Regions from separate parts of the Homo sapiens genome. Here region 1 is linked to region 2. The links come from fine-mapping of genetic effects on plasma protein levels. A gene starts in region 2. The other region holds a variant in brackets. All regions are shown on one strand. Distances are between the middles of the regions. Region 1 overlaps SIRT4 (sirtuin 4). Region 2 holds the start of PLA2G1B (phospholipase A2 group IB).

What was found. PIP is the posterior inclusion probability: the model's chance that the variant is causal. The UK Biobank Pharma Proteomics Project read protein levels with antibody pairs (Olink). The fine-mapping took linkage between variants from a reference panel, not from the people measured, so its PIPs are less certain.
Region 1: its variant is fine-mapped to the plasma level of the PLA2G1B protein (UK Biobank, PIP above 0.99).

Annotation. Positions count from the first base shown.
Region 1 is chr12:120,304,047-120,312,367 of GRCh38, forward strand. SIRT4 (sirtuin 4) reads left to right here. Exons shown (of 4, transcript NM_012240.3): 2 at 1-12. Among named protein-coding and RNA genes, the nearest start is that of SIRT4, 5.9 kb to the left of the region's middle. The variant C/T (reference allele first, on the strand shown) is at 6,736.
Region 2 is chr12:120,323,449-120,331,778 of GRCh38, forward strand. PLA2G1B (phospholipase A2 group IB) reads right to left here and starts at 4,331. Exons shown (of 4, transcript NM_000928.3): 1 at 4,272-4,331; 2 at 2,413-2,572; 3 at 1,486-1,613. The coding sequence starts at 4,305. RefSeq lists an enhancer at 2,228-2,287.

The DNA.
Region 1 (8,321 bases), 19 kb before region 2:
ATGCATGGACAGGTGCAGGAGCTGTACACGGTTTGAACGCAAACCCGTGTGTTGTTTTGGGAGAGTAGGGACCTTGGCTGTCTTGATCACCACAGTCTTAGACCTTGAGAAAAGGATTTCAGAGCAAGTTGTTTATTTTGCAGTTGATTCCAGTAAATTCATTGACGGAGCAAGGATGTAAAACAGGAAAGAGAGGAAAGCCAAGAAAGTGTGTGTTAATGAGTGGGTTACTGCCTTGGGCACTGGGGTTCAGTCCTGTGAGGGACCCTCCAACTGTCTAGGACATGCCTGAGGATTGTCTCAATGAAACTTGAGGACTGGGGCCGGGCGCAGTGGCTCACGCCTGTAATCCCAGCATTTTGGGAGGCTGAGGTGGGCAGATCACATGAGCTCAGGAGTTCGAGACCAGCCTGGCCAACATGGTGAAACCCCATTTCTACTAAAAATACAAAAATTAGCCAGTCGTGGTGGCACATGCCTGTAATCCCAGCTGCTTGGGAGGCTGAGGCAGGAAAATCTCTTGGGAGGCAGAGGTTGCTGCAGTGAGCCGAGATTGCACCACTACACTCCAGCCTGGGCAACAGTGCAAAAAAAAAGAAAAAAAGAAAAAAAAAAGTTGAGGATGGTGCACAGTGGCTCATACCTGTAATCCTAGCACTTTGGAAGGCTGAGGCAGGAAGATTGCTTGAGGCTAACAGTTCAGGACCAACCTGGCAAACACAGTGAGACTCTGTCTCTATATAAGTAAAGTAAATTTTATATATATATATATATATATATATATATATATTTTTTTTTTTTTTTTTTTTTTTTAAAGAAAGTTGAGGCCGGGTGTGGTGGCTCACGCCTGTAATCCCAGCACTTTGGGAGGCCAAGGCAGGCAGATTACCTGAGGTCAGGAGTTCAAGACCAATCTGGTCAACATGGTGAAACCCCGTCTCTACTAAAAATACAAAAATCTGTTGGAAGTGGTGGCACGCACCTGTAATTCCAGCTACTCAGGAGGCTGAGGCAGGAGAATCGCTTGAACCTGGGAGGTAGAGGTTGCAGTGAGCTGAGATCATGAGCTGAGATCATGCCACCACACCCCAGCCTGGGCAACAGAGCAAAACTCCGTCTCAAAAAGAAAAAAAAAAAAGAAAGTTGAGCAAGCTAGGGTGATTTTCTTTTATTTTCTTTTGTGTTTGTGTGTGCACGTGTGTGTGTGTGTGTGTGTGTGTGTATGACAGGCTTTCACTCTGTCACACAGACTGGGATGTGGTGGTGTGATTATAGCTCACTTCAGCCTCAATCTCTTGGGCTCAAGTGATCCTTTCACCCCAGCCTCCTAAGTAGCTGGGACTACAGGCAAACGCCACCGTGCCCAGCTAATTTTTAATTTAATTTTTATTTTTTGTAGAGACGAAGTCTTACTATGTTGCCCAGGCTGGTCTCGAACTCCTGGGCTCATGTGATCCTCCTGCCTTGGCATCTCAAAGTGCTGGGATGACTAGTGTGAGCCACTGTGCTTGGCCTTGAAGCTAGGGTATTTATTCACCATCTCTCATCCCTCATGGGTCCAGGATCACTCTAGGGGAATTAATTCCCTAACATTTTGACTCTGCTCCTCCCAAGGAGGCTTCCGTGGGCAGAGAACATCTGAGGCAAGAGAGACACAGGAAACTGCTTGTAAGAAAATTGTGTAGGCTGGGCGCGGCGGCTCACGCCTGTAATCCCAACACTTTGGGAGGCTGAGGCAGGCGGATCACGAGGTCAGTTGATCGAGACCATCCTGGCTAACATGGTGAAACCCCGTCTCTACTAAAAATACAAAAAATTAGCTGGGCGCGGTGGCGGACGCCTGTAGTCCCAGCTACTCGGGAGGCTGAGGCAGGAGAATGGCGTGAACCTGGGAGGTGGAGCTTGTGGTGAGCCGAGATCGCGCCACTGCACTCCAGCCTGGGTGACAGAGCGAGACTCCGTCTCAAAAAAAAAAAAAAAAGAAAGAAAGAAAATTGTGTCCACCAGGGTGCTGTGGTTCATATCTGTCATCCCAGCAACTCAGGAGGCTGAAGCAGGAGGATTACTTGAGGCCAGGAGATCAAGACCTGCCTGGGTAACACAGCCAGACTCCGTCTCTACAAAAAATTTTTTTAAGAAAGGAAATTGGCTGGGCACGGTGGCTCGCGCCTGTAATCCCAGCACTTTGGGAGGCTGAGTTGGGCGGATCACCTGAGGTCAGGAGTTCGAGACCAGCCTGACCAACATGGAGAAACCCTGTCTCTACTAAAAATACAAAATTAGCTGGGCGTGGTGGTGCATGCCTGTAATCCTAGCGACTCGGGAGGCTTAGACAGGAGAATAGCTTGAACCCAAGAGGCGGAGGTTGCGGTGAGCCGAGATTGTGCCATTGTACTCCAGCCTGCAGCCTGGGCAACAAGAACAAAACTCCGTCAAAAAAAAAAACAAACAAAAAAACAGAGAAAGGAAACTGGGACGGGTGCGGTGGCTCATGCTTGTAATCCCAGCACTTTGGGAGGCAGAGGCAGGCAGATCACTTGAGGTCAGGAGTTCGAGACCATCCTGGCCCACACGGTGAAACCCCATCTCTACTAAAAATACAAAAAATTACCTGGGCATAGTGGCGCACGCCTGTAGTCTCAGCTATTTGGGAGGCTGAGGCACGAGAGTCGCCTGAACCTGGGAGGCAGAGGTTGCAGTGAGCCAAGATTGTGCCACTGCACTCCAGCCTGGACAACAGAGTGAGACTCTATCTCAATAAAAAAACAAAAAGAAAGGAAACTGTTCGAACGTGGCCTTTAGCATGTTCTGAGGAAAATATGAGCTGAACACCAATAGCATGTGCTATAAACTGCTGGGTTTCCAATGCCTAGGATGGCTAGATACATAGACCATAACGTAGCCGGGCAGTAGTCAGAACTCAATCAATAATGAGGGAACAGATACATGGGAGGGTATCATGCTTATGGGTCTGGCAATAATTGTAGCTAATTGGAGACTTATTTCTTTAAGCCCTAGAGAGGCTCCTCTGAGGGCTGAAGTCAGTCTGCCAATGCTGAAATATTTACTGGGTGCCTAGAATGTATGGTGTACATACGTTACACTATGTAGTACATTATAACACTAACTACTGTGCTTCTTAGTGGTCAGAACCAAAGTATAGGCTGGGCTCAGTGGCTCACACCTATAATCCCAGCATTTTGAGAGGCTGAGGGGGCGGATCACTTGAGCTCAGGAGTTTGAGACCAGCCTGGCCAATATGTCGAAACCCAGTCTCTACTAAAAATAAAAGATTGGCCAGGCGTGGTGGCGGGCGCCTATAGTCCCAGCTACTCGGGAGGCTGAGGCAGGAGAATTGCATGAACATGGGTGGCAGAGGTTGCAGTGAGCCAAGATCGTGCCATTGCACTCCAGCCTGGGCGACAGAGGGAGATTGTCTCAAACAACAAACAAAAACCAAAGTATAAAACATGGCCCACTTTATATGCAAGAACTTTGTAATATTTGGGAAGACACAAAAATAACATAATTGGCCGGGCACGGTGGCTCACGCCTGTAATCCGAGCACTTTGGGAGGCCGAGGCAGGGGATCACCTGAGGTCAGGAGTTCAAGACCAGCCTGACCAACACAGTGAAACCCTGTCTCTACTAAAAATACAAAATTAGCCAGGCATGGTGGTGCATGCCTATAATCCCAGCTACTCAGGAGGCTGAGACAGGAGAATCATTTGAACCCGGGAGGCAGAGGTTGTAATGAGCTGAAATCGCACCATTGCACTCCAGCCTGGGCAACAAGAACGAAACTCCTTCTCAAAAAACAACCAAGCAAACAAACAAAGAAAAGCACATAATTAATGATAAATGACAACGCATGATTGTGAAATTGTGTGGTTCTTGATTTATATGCTGTGCATGTTCAAATAAACAGATTTAGTAAAGATTGGAATAATCAGTTGAGAAAGCTTTTTAAAAAAAAAATTTTTTTTTTTAAATAGAGACAGGATCTTGCTGTGTTGCCTAGTCTGGTCTCGAACTCCTAAGCTCAAGCCCTCCTCCTGCCTTGATCTTCCAAAGTGTTGGGATTACAGGTGTGAGCCACCATGCCTGGCCCAAGAAAGCTTTTTTTTTTTTTTTTTTTTTGAAACACAGTCTTGTTCTTGTTGCCCAGGCTGGAGTGCAGTGGCACGGTCTCGGCTCACTGCAACCTCCGCCTCCTGGGTTCAAGTGATTCTCCTGCCTCAGCCTCCCAAGTAGTTGGGATTACAGGTGCCTGCCACCACCCCCAGCTAATTTTTTGTATTTGTAGTAGAGGTAGGGTTTCATCATGTTGGCCAGGCTGGTCTCGAACTCACTCCTGACCTCGTGATCCGCCTGCCTCGGCCTCCCAAAGCGCTGGGATTACAGGCGTGAGCCACAGCGCCTGCCCCAAGAAAGCTTTTATGGGTACAGGGGGCTTGAGATTGGCTCAGGTTTGTCTAGGCAAGAGCGGGAAACAGGGCTTTCCAAATGAAGGGAAGTTGTAGATCCCAGAGGAGTCTGGCCTGGCCTCTGTAGAGGTTTGGACCTGGGACTTGCAGAAACCAGATTGTCTGGGAAAGTTAGGCCCAAATCATGGTTACATTTGAAAATCAGGCAGTGCAGTTGGGTCTGCTGTGAGACACCAAAGGGGTTTATTAGTGGTTTCTGAGCAAGCAAGCAACATGATAAAAATAGCATTTGAGGAAGGCTAAACAGGATTAAAAAGAGCAGGTCAGGGAGGTCAGCCTGAAAGACCTAGACTAAGGTGGTATCCAGGGAATTTGAGTTAATGATGCTTATGGATTCATTAAAACAATTTTTTCCGCCGGGCGTGGTGGCTCATGCCTGTCATCTCAGCACTTTGGGATGCCGAAGCGGGTGGATAACCTGAGGTCGGGAGTCAAGACCAGCCTGACCAACATGGAGAAACCCTGTCACTACTAAAAGTACAAGAACAACAAAAAATTAGCCGGGCATGGTGGCACATGCCTGTAATCCCAGCTACTCGGGAGGCTGAGGCAGGAGAATCGCTTGAACCTGGGAGGCGGAGGTTGCGGTGAGCCAAGACTGTTGTGCCATTGCCCTCCAGCCTGGGCGACAAGAGTGAAACTCTGTCTCAAAAAAAACTCACAATTTTTTTCATGAAGAAAATCTGTTCTTTTAATAATGAAAATTTCAAACTTCACAAAAGTAAAGAGAATTGTATAATGAATTCTCATATACCATCACCCAGATTCCAAGGTTTTATCAAGATTTTGTCATGTCTACTTTATCCATTCTGTCTCTTCTTAAGCATTTTAAAACAATCCAGGACTTCTTGACATTTCACAGGGGCCTTTTTTTCTTTTCTTTTTTTTTTTTTTTTGAGACAGAGTCTCACTCTGTCGCCTAGGCTGGAGAGCAGTGGTGAGATCTTGGCTCACTGCAACCTCCACCTCCCGGGTTCAACCGATTCTCCTGCCTCAGCCTCCTGAGTAGCTGGGATTACAGGCATGCACCACCATGCCCGGCTAATTTTTGTATTTTTGGTAGAGACTGGGTTTCACCGTGTTGGGCCAGGCTGGTCTCAAACTCCTGACCTCAGGTGATCTGCCTGCCTTGGCCTCCCAAAGTGCTGGGATTACAGGCATGAGCCACTGTGCCCGCTTTCTTTTTTTTTTTTTTTTTTTGAGATGAAGTCTTGCTCTGTCACCTAGGCTGGAGTACAATGGCATGATCTTGGCTCACTGTAACCTCTACATCCTGGGTTCAAGCAATTCTCCTGTCTCAACCTCCTGAGTAGCTGGAATTACAGGTGTGCACCACCACACCCGGCTAATTTTTTTGTATTTTTGTAGAGACAGGGTATCACCATGTTGGCCAGGCGGGTCTCAAACTCCTGACCTCAACTGATCCACCCATCTTGGCCTCCCAAATTGCTGGGATTACAGGTGTGAGTCACCGTGCCCGGCCTGGCCTTTTTTTCTTTTTTAGACAGGGTCTGGTTCTGACACCCAGGCTAGAGTGCAATGGTGCCATCATAACTCCCTGTAACCTAGAACTCCTGGGTAATTAGAACTCCAGCTAATTAAAAAATTTTTTTTGGCTAGGCGTGGTGGCTCACGTCTGTAGTCTCAGCACTTTGGGAGGCCGAGGTGGGCAGATCACAAAAATTAGCTGGGCGTGGTGGCAGGCGCCTGTAATCCCAGCTGCTCGGGAGGCTGAGGCAGGAGAATCGCTTAAGCCCAGGAGGCGGAGGTTGCAGTGAGCCGAGATCGCGCCATTGCACTCCAGCCTGGGCGACAGAGCAAGACCCCGTCTCAAAAAACAAAGACAAGCCAAAAAAATTTTTTTTGTAGAGAGAGCGTCTTGCTGTCTACCCAGACTGGTCTGGAACTCCTGAGCTCAAGCGATTCTCTTGCTTTACGCTCCCAAAGTGCTGGGATTACAAGGTGTGAGCCACCATGCCTGGCCACAGGGGTTCTTTTAAGAGAAGAAAATCAACATAATCTGATGGCTGACTAGAACTAAAAGGAGAAAAATGAGGCTGGTTGTGGTGGCTCACACCTGTAGTCCCAGCACTTTGGAAGACTAAGGCAGGAGGATTGCTTGAGCCTAGGAGTTCGAGGCTGCAGTGAGCTATGATCATGCCACTGCACTCCAGGTAAGAGCCACCACGCCTGGCCAAGACCCTGTCTCTTTTTTTTTTTTGAGACGGAGTCTCGCTCGTTGCCCAGG[C/T]TGGAGTGCAGTGGTGCTATCTCGGCTCACTGCAAGCTCCGCCTCCCGGGTTCACGCCATTCTCCTGCCTCAGCCTCCCGAGTAGCTGGGACTACAGGCGCCCGCCACCACGGCCGGCTAATTTTTTGTATTTTTAGTAGAGATGGGGTTTCACCGTGTTAGCCAGGATGGTCTCGATCTCCTGACCTCGTGATCCGCCCGCCTCGGCCTCCCAAAGTGTTGGGATTACAGGCGTGAGCCACCACGCCCAGCCTGACCCTGTCTCTTAAAAAAAAAAAAAAAAAAAAAAAAAATAGGCCGGGCGCAGTGGCTCATGCCTGTAATCCCAGCATTTTGGGAGGCCAAGGCGGGCAGACCACCTGAGGTCAAGAGTTCGAGACCAGCCTCAACATGGAGAAACCCCGTCTCTACTAAAAATACAAAATTAGCCGGGCGTGGTGGTGCATGCCTGTAATCCCAGCTACTCGGGAGGCTGAGGCAGGAGAATTGCTTGAACCTGGGAGGCAGAGGTTGCGGTGAGCCAAGATCGCGCCATTGCACTCCAGCCTGGGCAACAAGAGTGAAACTCCGTCTCAAAAAAATAAAAAATAAAATAAAAAAATAAAAACAGACACAAAGTGCTCTCCCTCACTGGCTCAAGCTCTGGTGATTGGAGAGGTGAGAAGGGGGGCCAGGTGCAGTGGCTCACACCTGTAATCCCAGCACTTTGGGAGGCCAAGGCAGGCGGATCACCTGAGGTCGGGAGTTTGAGACCAGCCTTACCAACATGGAGAAACCCCGTCTCTACTAAAAATACAAAAAAAATTAGTCGGGTGTGGTAGAGCCTGCCTGTAATCCCGGCTACTCAGGAGGCTGAGGCAGGAGAATCGCTTGAGACCAGGAGGTGGAGGTTGCGGTGAGCCAAGATCATGCCATTGCACTCCAACCTGGGCAATGAGAGTGAAACTTGCTCTCAAAAAAAAAAAAAAAAAAAAAAAAAAAAAGAGGTGAGAAGAGAACCAGGAGACACTGTGTCCTGGAAACCAAGAAGGAGAAGCATTTTAGAAGGAATGGTAATAGACAGTGGCAAATTCAGCAGATGAGCAAGGGAAAGTATAGAGGGAAAAACGCAGGTTTGGGCATTAAGGAAATCAGCAGGCAAGGCATTTGCAGTCATGTTAAGGATAAAAGTGAGCTATAGCAGAAGGTTAGGAAGGAGTGTATAGGAAGGAAATTGATGGGCTGGGCGCAGTGGCTCACACCTGTAATCCCAGCACTTTGGGAGGCCAAGGAGGGAGGATCACTTGAGGCCAGGAGTTTGAGACCAGCCTGGGCGACACAGTGAAACACCGTCTCTACCAAAACTACAAAAATTAGCTGGGCGAGATGGCGCGTGTTTGTAGTGCAGTCCCTGCCACTCAGGAGGATGAGGTGGGAGGATAACCTGAGCCCAGGAGGTTGAGGCTGCAGTGAGCTGAGATCGTGCCACTGCATTCCAGCCTGGGCAACAGCCAGACCCTGTCTCCAAAAATAAAAAAAATAAAATAGAAAGTATGGCTAAAATGGGGTGGGGATTGTGTGTTAGGGAAAGAAAGCAGCGATGGAAG
Region 2 (8,330 bases):
AGAGATAGGGTTTCACCATATTGACCAGGCTGGTCTCGAACTTCTCACCTCAAGTGATCCACCCACCTTGGACTTCCAAAGTACTGTGGTTACAGGCTTGAGTCACTGTGCCCAACTGAGTTATTTTTAATTAATATGAACAAACATCCTCTAATGCAGGTTTCTTGTCTTAGTTGCAAACATTAAAAAAAAACTGTGTGTGAGTGTGTGTGTGTGTGTGTATTTCTCTGGGGAGAGGGTTCATAGCTTTCATCAGATTTGTAAATTTGGCCTTCTAAAGTGGAGCAGGAGGATGTATAAGCAAATTAAGCCATATTATTCAGTGACTAAAATAGTAACAATGAAAAAACAGTAACAATAAAGGTTTGAGGCAATATGAAAAAGTCATAACAAGGTGATAAGTGAAAAAGCAGAATGCAAGATTGTATTTATTCTGCAAAGTTGTCAAGATTGTTTTAAAAAAAGAAAAAGAAAGTTTATATCTAGGCTGTGCATTCATCAATTATTTATTGAGCACCTACTATATGTCAGACACTGCTCTAGATCTGGGGATATAGCAATAAAGAAAATAGACAGTAATCGGCCAGGCACAGTGACTCACGCCTATAATTCCAGCACTTTGGGAGACTGAGGCAGGCAGATCACTTGAGGTCAGGAGTTTGAGACCAGCCTGGGCAACATGGTAAAACCCCATCTCTGCTAAAAATACAAAAAATTAGCCAAGCATGGTGGTGCACGCTTGTAATTCCAGCTACTCAGGAGGCTTAGGCAGGAGAATCGCTTGAACCCGGGAGGCAGAGGTTGCAGTGAGCTGAACGGAGGTTGAGGTGATGAAGTGAGACTCTGTCTCAAAAAAGAAAGGAAGAAAATAGGCAGTAATCCCTGTTCTGTGGATCTTACATTCTATTGGAAAGATGGAATGTAAAGAAATAAGTAGCCGCACATGGTGGCTCACCCCTGTAATCCCAGCACTTTGGGATGCCAAGGTAGGAGGATTGCTTGAAGCCAGGAGTTTAAGACAAGCCTGGCCAACGTAGTAAGACCCAGTCTCTACAAAAAAATTTTTTTAATTAGCCAGGCGTGGTGGTGCACGCTCGTAGTCCCAGCTACTTGGGAGGCTGAGGTCAGCAGATCCCTTGAGCTCAGGAGGTTGAGGCTGCAGTGACCTATGGTTGCACCACTGTGCTCATGCCTGGGTGACAGAGCAAGACCCTGTCTCTAAACAACAACAAAAAAAAACCCAAACTGTCACCACTTACAAGCTGTGTGATCTTGGGCAAATAGCTCAGCCTTCTGAGCCTCAGTTTTCTTATCTGTTAAGTGAGGATAATTGTACCTATCCCATAGTGTTGTTCTGAGGATTAAAGGAGACACTGCCCAGAACCAAGAAAATTAACACTAAATCATGGCTGTTGTTACTATTATTTCCCCCCGGCCTACTGAGAACCAACTAGAATTCATAGGTCAAGGAAGGGATAAACCTACTGCTACAGGTGATTGCCGAGCCAGAGCACGAGTATGAATAGGTGTGGGTGTACGGGTTGTCCAGCAGAAATTTACAGCTGTCCAGCTTCTTGGCCTGGTCATAGCAGTTGTCATGTGTCTGGCAGCACCTGGAAAGTGGGAGGGACAGCTGAGATAGGAGTAAGTGCAGAGCAATAGGTCAGCCCTCACCTGCCCACTCTCAGGAACAGGTGGGGATGACTTCGCCAAGATGCTTCAGGAGAAATGATCCTATGGCTTGAAAAAATATAAGTCCTTTTATCATATATTTATTGAAAGCATTTTTTTTTTTTGAGACAGAGTTGCTCTGTTACCCAGGCTGGACAGCAGTGACACGACCTTGGCTCACTGAAACCTCCAACTCAGTCTCCCAAGTAGCTGGGGTTACAGGCGCTCGCCACCATGTCCGGCTAATTTTTGTATTTTTTAGTAGAGACAGGGTTTCACCATGTTGGCCAGGCTGGTCTCGAACTCCTGACCTCAAGTGATCCGCCCGCCTCGGCCTCCCAAAGTGCTGGGATTACAGGCATGAGCCACCGCGCCTGGCCTGAAAGCGATTTTTAACATGGTTGCAAGAATACAGTAAAATCCTGTATTCAGAAGGTGCAGTGACAACCACTGCTAGAAAATGACACGTGGATAGTTGCTGTGATGTTTACTGTTGCTACATTCTGCCACTGGAGGGCAGCATCGCCCACTGTTTTGCACGTCGGTCATTGTTTCCATCTCTAACGGGGTGCGTTCGCTACAGGGTCCTCTTGGAACATATTTGTTTATTTGACAAGAGGTGAAAATATGTTATCCTTAGCAGATATGCAAGTCCCCTTTGTATGCCTCGTGAGATCCTTGGCGTGTGCCCCACCCCGCCCCCGGCAGGCACTCCAATTTTCCTGCAGGCGGATCACTTACTTGTCCAGTTCATCCACGGGGGTGCCTGAGCCCCCCAAGCCACAGTAGCAGCCGTAGTTGTTGTATTCCAAGAAGGGGTCACTCCCCGGGATCACGCACTTGATCATTTTGCGGAACTGCCACACGGCCCGAGGGCTGATGCCGCTGTCGGCGGCGGCCACTGCAAGAAGACATAGCCAGAGTTCAAATCGGTCTGCCAGCACCCCGGGGACACACTGCCTTCCTGCTCCCTCGGGTCCCACGCTGCCTCCCTGACCCCTGCCAGCTGCCTCCTCTGAAGACCGTTGGACCCAGGAACCTGGTAAAGTGAAAGTGGGTAGAGGTTTTTTTTTTTTTTTAATGAAAACTTTATATATATAAAGTTTATATCTTTGTGTGTGTGTATATATATATATATCTTCTTCTTTTTCTTCTTCTTCTTCTTCTGGGACCCTACCGCCTCAGCTAGGATTACAGGCATGTGCCACCCAGCTAGGCCTGATAGTTTTTTTTTTTTTTTTGAGATGGAGTCTTGCTCTGTTGCCCAGGTTGGAGTGCAGTGACACGATTTCAGCTCACTGCAAACTCTGCTTCCCGGGTTCACGCCATTCTCCTGCCTCAGCCTCCCTAGGTCAGATAGTTTTAAACTATCTGCACTGTTTATCCAGTGAATATTTATTGAGCACTTACTATGTGCCAGGCTCTGTCCTAGGAGCTAGAGATACAGCAGTGAACAGATATAATAATAATAATAATAATAATAATAATAATAATAATAATAATAATCTCTAACCTCATGGAGCTTACAACCTAGTGGGAGAGAAAAACAATAAATAATAAATGTGATAAGGCCGGGCACGGTGGCTCATGCCTGTAATCCCAGCACTTTGGGAGGCCGAGGCAGGCGGATCACAAGGTCATGAGATCGAGACCATCCTGGCTAACACGATGAAACCCCGTCTTTATTAAAAATACAAAAAAATTAGCGGGGCGTGGTGGCAGGCGCCTTTAGTCCCAGCTACTGGGGAGGCTGAGGCGGGAGAATGGCGTGAACCCAGCAGGTGGAGCTTGCAGTGAGCCGAGATCGCACCACTGTACTCCAGCCTTGGCGACAAAGCAAGACTCTGTCTCAATAATAATAAGAATAATAATAAATGTGATAAGTAAGGAAACTGGATACTGCATTAGAAAGGGGAAGAATAGAGCAGGATGAGGAGAATCTAAAAGGGAGGTCACCCAGCCTGGCCAACATGGTGAAAACCTGTCTCTACCAAAAAAAACACACAAAAAATTAGCTGGGCATGGTGGTGTGTGCCAGCTACTTGAGAGCTACAAGTCCCAGCTACTTGAGAGGCTGAGGCAAGAGAATTATTTGAACCCAGGAGATGGAGGTTGTAGTGATCTGAGATCACGCCACCGCACTCCAGCCTGGGCGACAGAGTGAGCCCCGTCTCAAAAATAAAATAAAGTAAAATAAAAATAAAAATTAAAATAAAATAAAATAAATGGGAGATTGGCCTAACTACTTAGTTGAGTAAGGTGGGAGGATCACTTGAGCCCACGAGTTGGAAGCTGTGGTGAGCTATGATCATGCCACTGAACTCCAGCCTGGGTGATAGAGCAAGACCCTGTCTGGAAAAAAGAAAATAAAGGCAAGCTTTCTTAGCTCAGGCAATCTGAGTTCAGACTTGCAGGTTGAAAAAGTGCCAGCCTTGAGGGAACCCCAATAGAGGAGCCCTTAAGCCCCACTGGGAACCTCGAATTGAGACTGCGGGGCTGGCCATCCCTGTTTGCTGTGGCCTGTGGCCCCCATTCCAGAGGAGTGAGATCTTAGCTCACTTGGGAGAGAAAGGCGGGTGGAGCCGGGGAGACTTGCCTACCTGTGAGCAGCACAGCTAGCACAAGGAGTTTCATCTTGCAGTCAAGGTGAGAAAAGAACTGAGATGACCAGTCTCAGGTATAGTCTTATAGTCAGTCTCCACACAACCCTGCCCAGATAAGGCTGGAGTGTTTGCTTTGCTCTTGGCTGAGTTTGGGGCTGGCCTTGAATCTGTCTGTTGCAGGAATGACCCTGACGATTTGCCAGCATGGGATCACTGGAAAATATGTTATGCATTTGTCCTTAGCAACTGTTAACCAAAGGGATGGTTTCTGGAGTTTTCAGATCTTACAATCTTGACCCTCATACCCACCACTTTGTACTCAGCCCAGCTTCACGGGCTGGTTGGGGAAAGCAAAGCCGTCAGTTCAGTCGGACGCTGGGATAAGGGAGACAAGAAGGAAGTGCAGCCTGGGCAACATAGAGAGACCTCATCTCTAAAAAAAAAAATGTTAACCAGGTGTGGTGGTGGATTGCACCTGTGATCCCAGCAACTCAGGAGGCTGAGATGGGAGGATCTCTTGAGCCAGGGAGGTCAAGGCTGCAATGAACAGTGATTGAGCCTCTGCAGCAGAGTGAGACCCTATTTCAAAAAAAAAAAAAAAAAAAGAAAGAAAGAAAAAAGATCGCTGCCTGCAGCCTCAATGTCTTATCAAGTGCCTGAATCTGTGCACTGGGTCTGGTTGAATAGTCCCATCAGTCGTGCACCTTGCAGATAAAGAGACAGGTTCAGAGAGTTGCGGTAACTTGCCCAAGGTCACACAGTTGGCAAATGACAAAATAGGGCTCCAGTTTAGATCTGTCTGATTCCAAGGCAGAGGTTTTATTTTTTTCCACCACTCCGCTCTGCAGTGTGGGTTTGTGAGAAAAACCTGGGCTTTGGATTCCAAAGGCCTGAGTCTGAATTATAGAATACTAAAGGGCATTAGAACTGTCATATCAGAGGCCAGGCACGGTGGCTCATGCCTGTAATCCCAGCACTTTGGGAGGCTGAGGCTGGCAGATCACCTGAGGTGGAGAGTTCGAGACCAGCCTGACCAACATGGAATAACCCTGTCTCTACTAAAAACACAAAATTAGCCAGGCATGGTGGCTTATGCCTGTAATCCCAGCTACTCCGGAGGCCGAGGCAGGAGAATGGCTTGAACCCTGGAGGCGGAGGTTGCGGTGAGCTGAGATCACGCCATTGCACTCCAGCCTAGGGAACAAGAGCAAAACTCCATCTCAAAAAAAAACCTGTCACATCACATATCTATTTATTTATATATATTTTTTGAGACGGAGTCTTGCTCTGTTGCCTAGGCTGGAGTGCAATGGCGCGATCTTGGCTCACTGCAAGCTCTGCCTCCCAGGTTCATGCCATTCTCCTGCCTCAGCCTCCCAAGTAGCTGGGACTACAGGCACCCACCACCACGCCCGGTTAATTTTTTTTTTTGTATTTTTAGTAGAGATGGGGTTTCACCGCATTAGCCAGGATGGTCTCGATCTCCTGACCTCGTGATCCACCTGCCTCGGCCTCCCAAAATGCTGGGATTACAGGCGTGAGCCACCGCGCCCGGCCAAATATCTACATAACATTGTTTAGCTGAAATTCACATAACATTAACCACGTTTAAGTAAACAATTCGGGGGCATTTAGTACCTTCACAGTGTTGTGCAACCATCACCTCTATGGGGTTCCAGAACATTTTTATCACTCCAGAAGGAAACCCTGTACCCATTAGCAGTCACACTCCCTCAGCCCCTGGTAACTGCTAATCTGCTTCTCTCTCTCTCTCTCTTTTTTTTTTGAGACAGAGTTTCGCTCTTGTCGCCCAGGCTGGAGTGCAATGGCACGATCTCGGCTTACTGCAACCTCCGCCTCCCAGGTTCAAGCGATTCTCCTGCCTCAGCCTCTCGTGTAGCTGGGAATTACAGGCGCCTGCCAGCATGCCTGGATAATTTTTGTATTTTTAGTAGAGACAAGGTTTCACCATGTTGGTCAGGCTGGTCTCAAACTCTTGACCTCAGGTGATCCACTCCTCAGCCTCCCAAAATGCTGGGATTATAGGCATGAGCCACTGTGCCTGGCCTCTGATCTGCTTCTCTCTATATAGATTTATAATTGGTTAACTTGGTGCTCTTCTGTTCCTATGTCACCTCTACAACAACCCTGTGGGATAAGGAGGGCCTGGTTATTTAATTTATTTATCTGTTTTTTTTTTTTGAGACAAAGTGTCGCTCTGTTTCCCAGACTGATGTGCAGTGACACGATCATAGTTCACTGCAGCCTCAACCTCCTGGGCTCAAGCAATCCTCCCACCTTAGCCTCCCGATTAGTGGGGACTACAGACATGTGTCACCACACCTGGCTAATTTAAAAAAATTTTTTGGGCCAGGCACGGTGGCTCATACCTGTAATCCCAGCACTTGGGGAGACCGAGGCAGGCGGATCACGAGGTCAGGTGATGGAGACCATCCTGGCTAACACAGTGAAACCTTGTCTCTACTAAAGATACAAAAAATAAGCTGGGCATGGTGGCGGGTGCCTGTAATCTCAGCAACTTGGGAGGCTGAGGCAGAAGAATGGCGTGAACCCAGGAGGCAGAGTTTGCAGTGAGCCGAGATCACGCCACTGTACTCCGGCCTGGGCGACACAGCGAGACTCTGTCTCAAAAAAATTTTTGGAGACACGGCGTCTCCCTATGTTGCCCAGGCTGGTCTTGAACTCCTGGCCTCAAGTGATCCTCCCATCTAAGCCTCCCAAAGCATTGGGATCACAGGCGTGAGCCACTGTGCCCAGCAACCTTGATAGTTTTGAGGAGTATTGGTCAGGATGACCCTCTCTTGGAATTTGTGTGTGTGTGTGTGTGGGTGTGTGTGTGTGTGTTTGTTGTAGTCTCACTCTGTCGCCCAGGCTGGAGTGCAGTGGCACAATCTCGGCTCACTGCAATCTCTGTCTCCCAGGTTCAAGTGATTCTTGTGCCTCAGCCTCTGAGTAGCTGGGATTACAGGCACGTGCCACCACGCCCAGCTAATTTTTATTTATTTATTTTTATTTATTTTTGAGACGGAGTCTCACTCTGTCACCAGGCTGGAGTGCAGTGGCGCGATCTCAGCTCACTGCAACCTCTGCCTCCCGGGTTCAAATGATTCTCCTGCCTCAGCCTCCCGAGTAGCTGGGACTACAGGTGCACACCACTGCGTCCAGCTAATTTTTGTATTTTTAGTAGAGACGGGGTTTCACCATGTTGGCCAGGATGGTCTTGATTTCTTGACCTCATGATCTGCCCGCCTCAGCCTCCCAAAGTGCTGGGATTACAGGCGTGAACCACTGCACCTGGCTCTCTATTGGAATTGTCCTGTGTTTTTCTCATAATTAGATTACAGTTATGGGTTTGGGGGAGGAAGACCACAGAGGCAAAGTGCCATTTCATCACATGGCTGCTTTATGTTTAATCATCTCTTTTCTGGGCCGGGCGTGGTGGCTCATGCCTGCAGTCCCAGCACTTCGGGAGGCCGAAGCGGGTGGATCACCTGAGGTCAGGAGATCGAGACCATGGTGAAACCCCATCTCTACTAAAAATACAAAAAATTAGCCGGGCGTGGTGGCGGGTGCCTGTTGTCCCAGGTACTCCCGAGGCTGAGGCAGGAGAATGGCGTGAACCCGGGAGGCGGAGCTTGCAGTGAGCCGAGTGCCACTGCACTCCAGCCCGGGTGACAGAGTGAGACTCTGCCTCAAAATAAATAAAAAAAAAATAAAAATAAAAATGAAATACCATTAAAAGTTCAGTTTCTCAGTCACAATGGCCACATTTCAAGGCTCATAGACACATGTGGCGAGTGGCTGCCAGATTGGCAGCCACAGAATGTTTCCATGATCACAGAAGGTTCTGTTGGACAGGGCTGCTGTGGATTGTCACAGAGCCTGTCTCAGGGCTGCCCCATGGGAGGTGGGGGCTATGAGGACTAATGGAGGGGGACTTGGTTAGGTCAGAATCCCACATCAGCTTGACTGAATGGTCCTGCCTCTGCAGCCCCAGAATGAGTGGAGTCTGCCCAAGCAAAGGGAAGCCTTGCC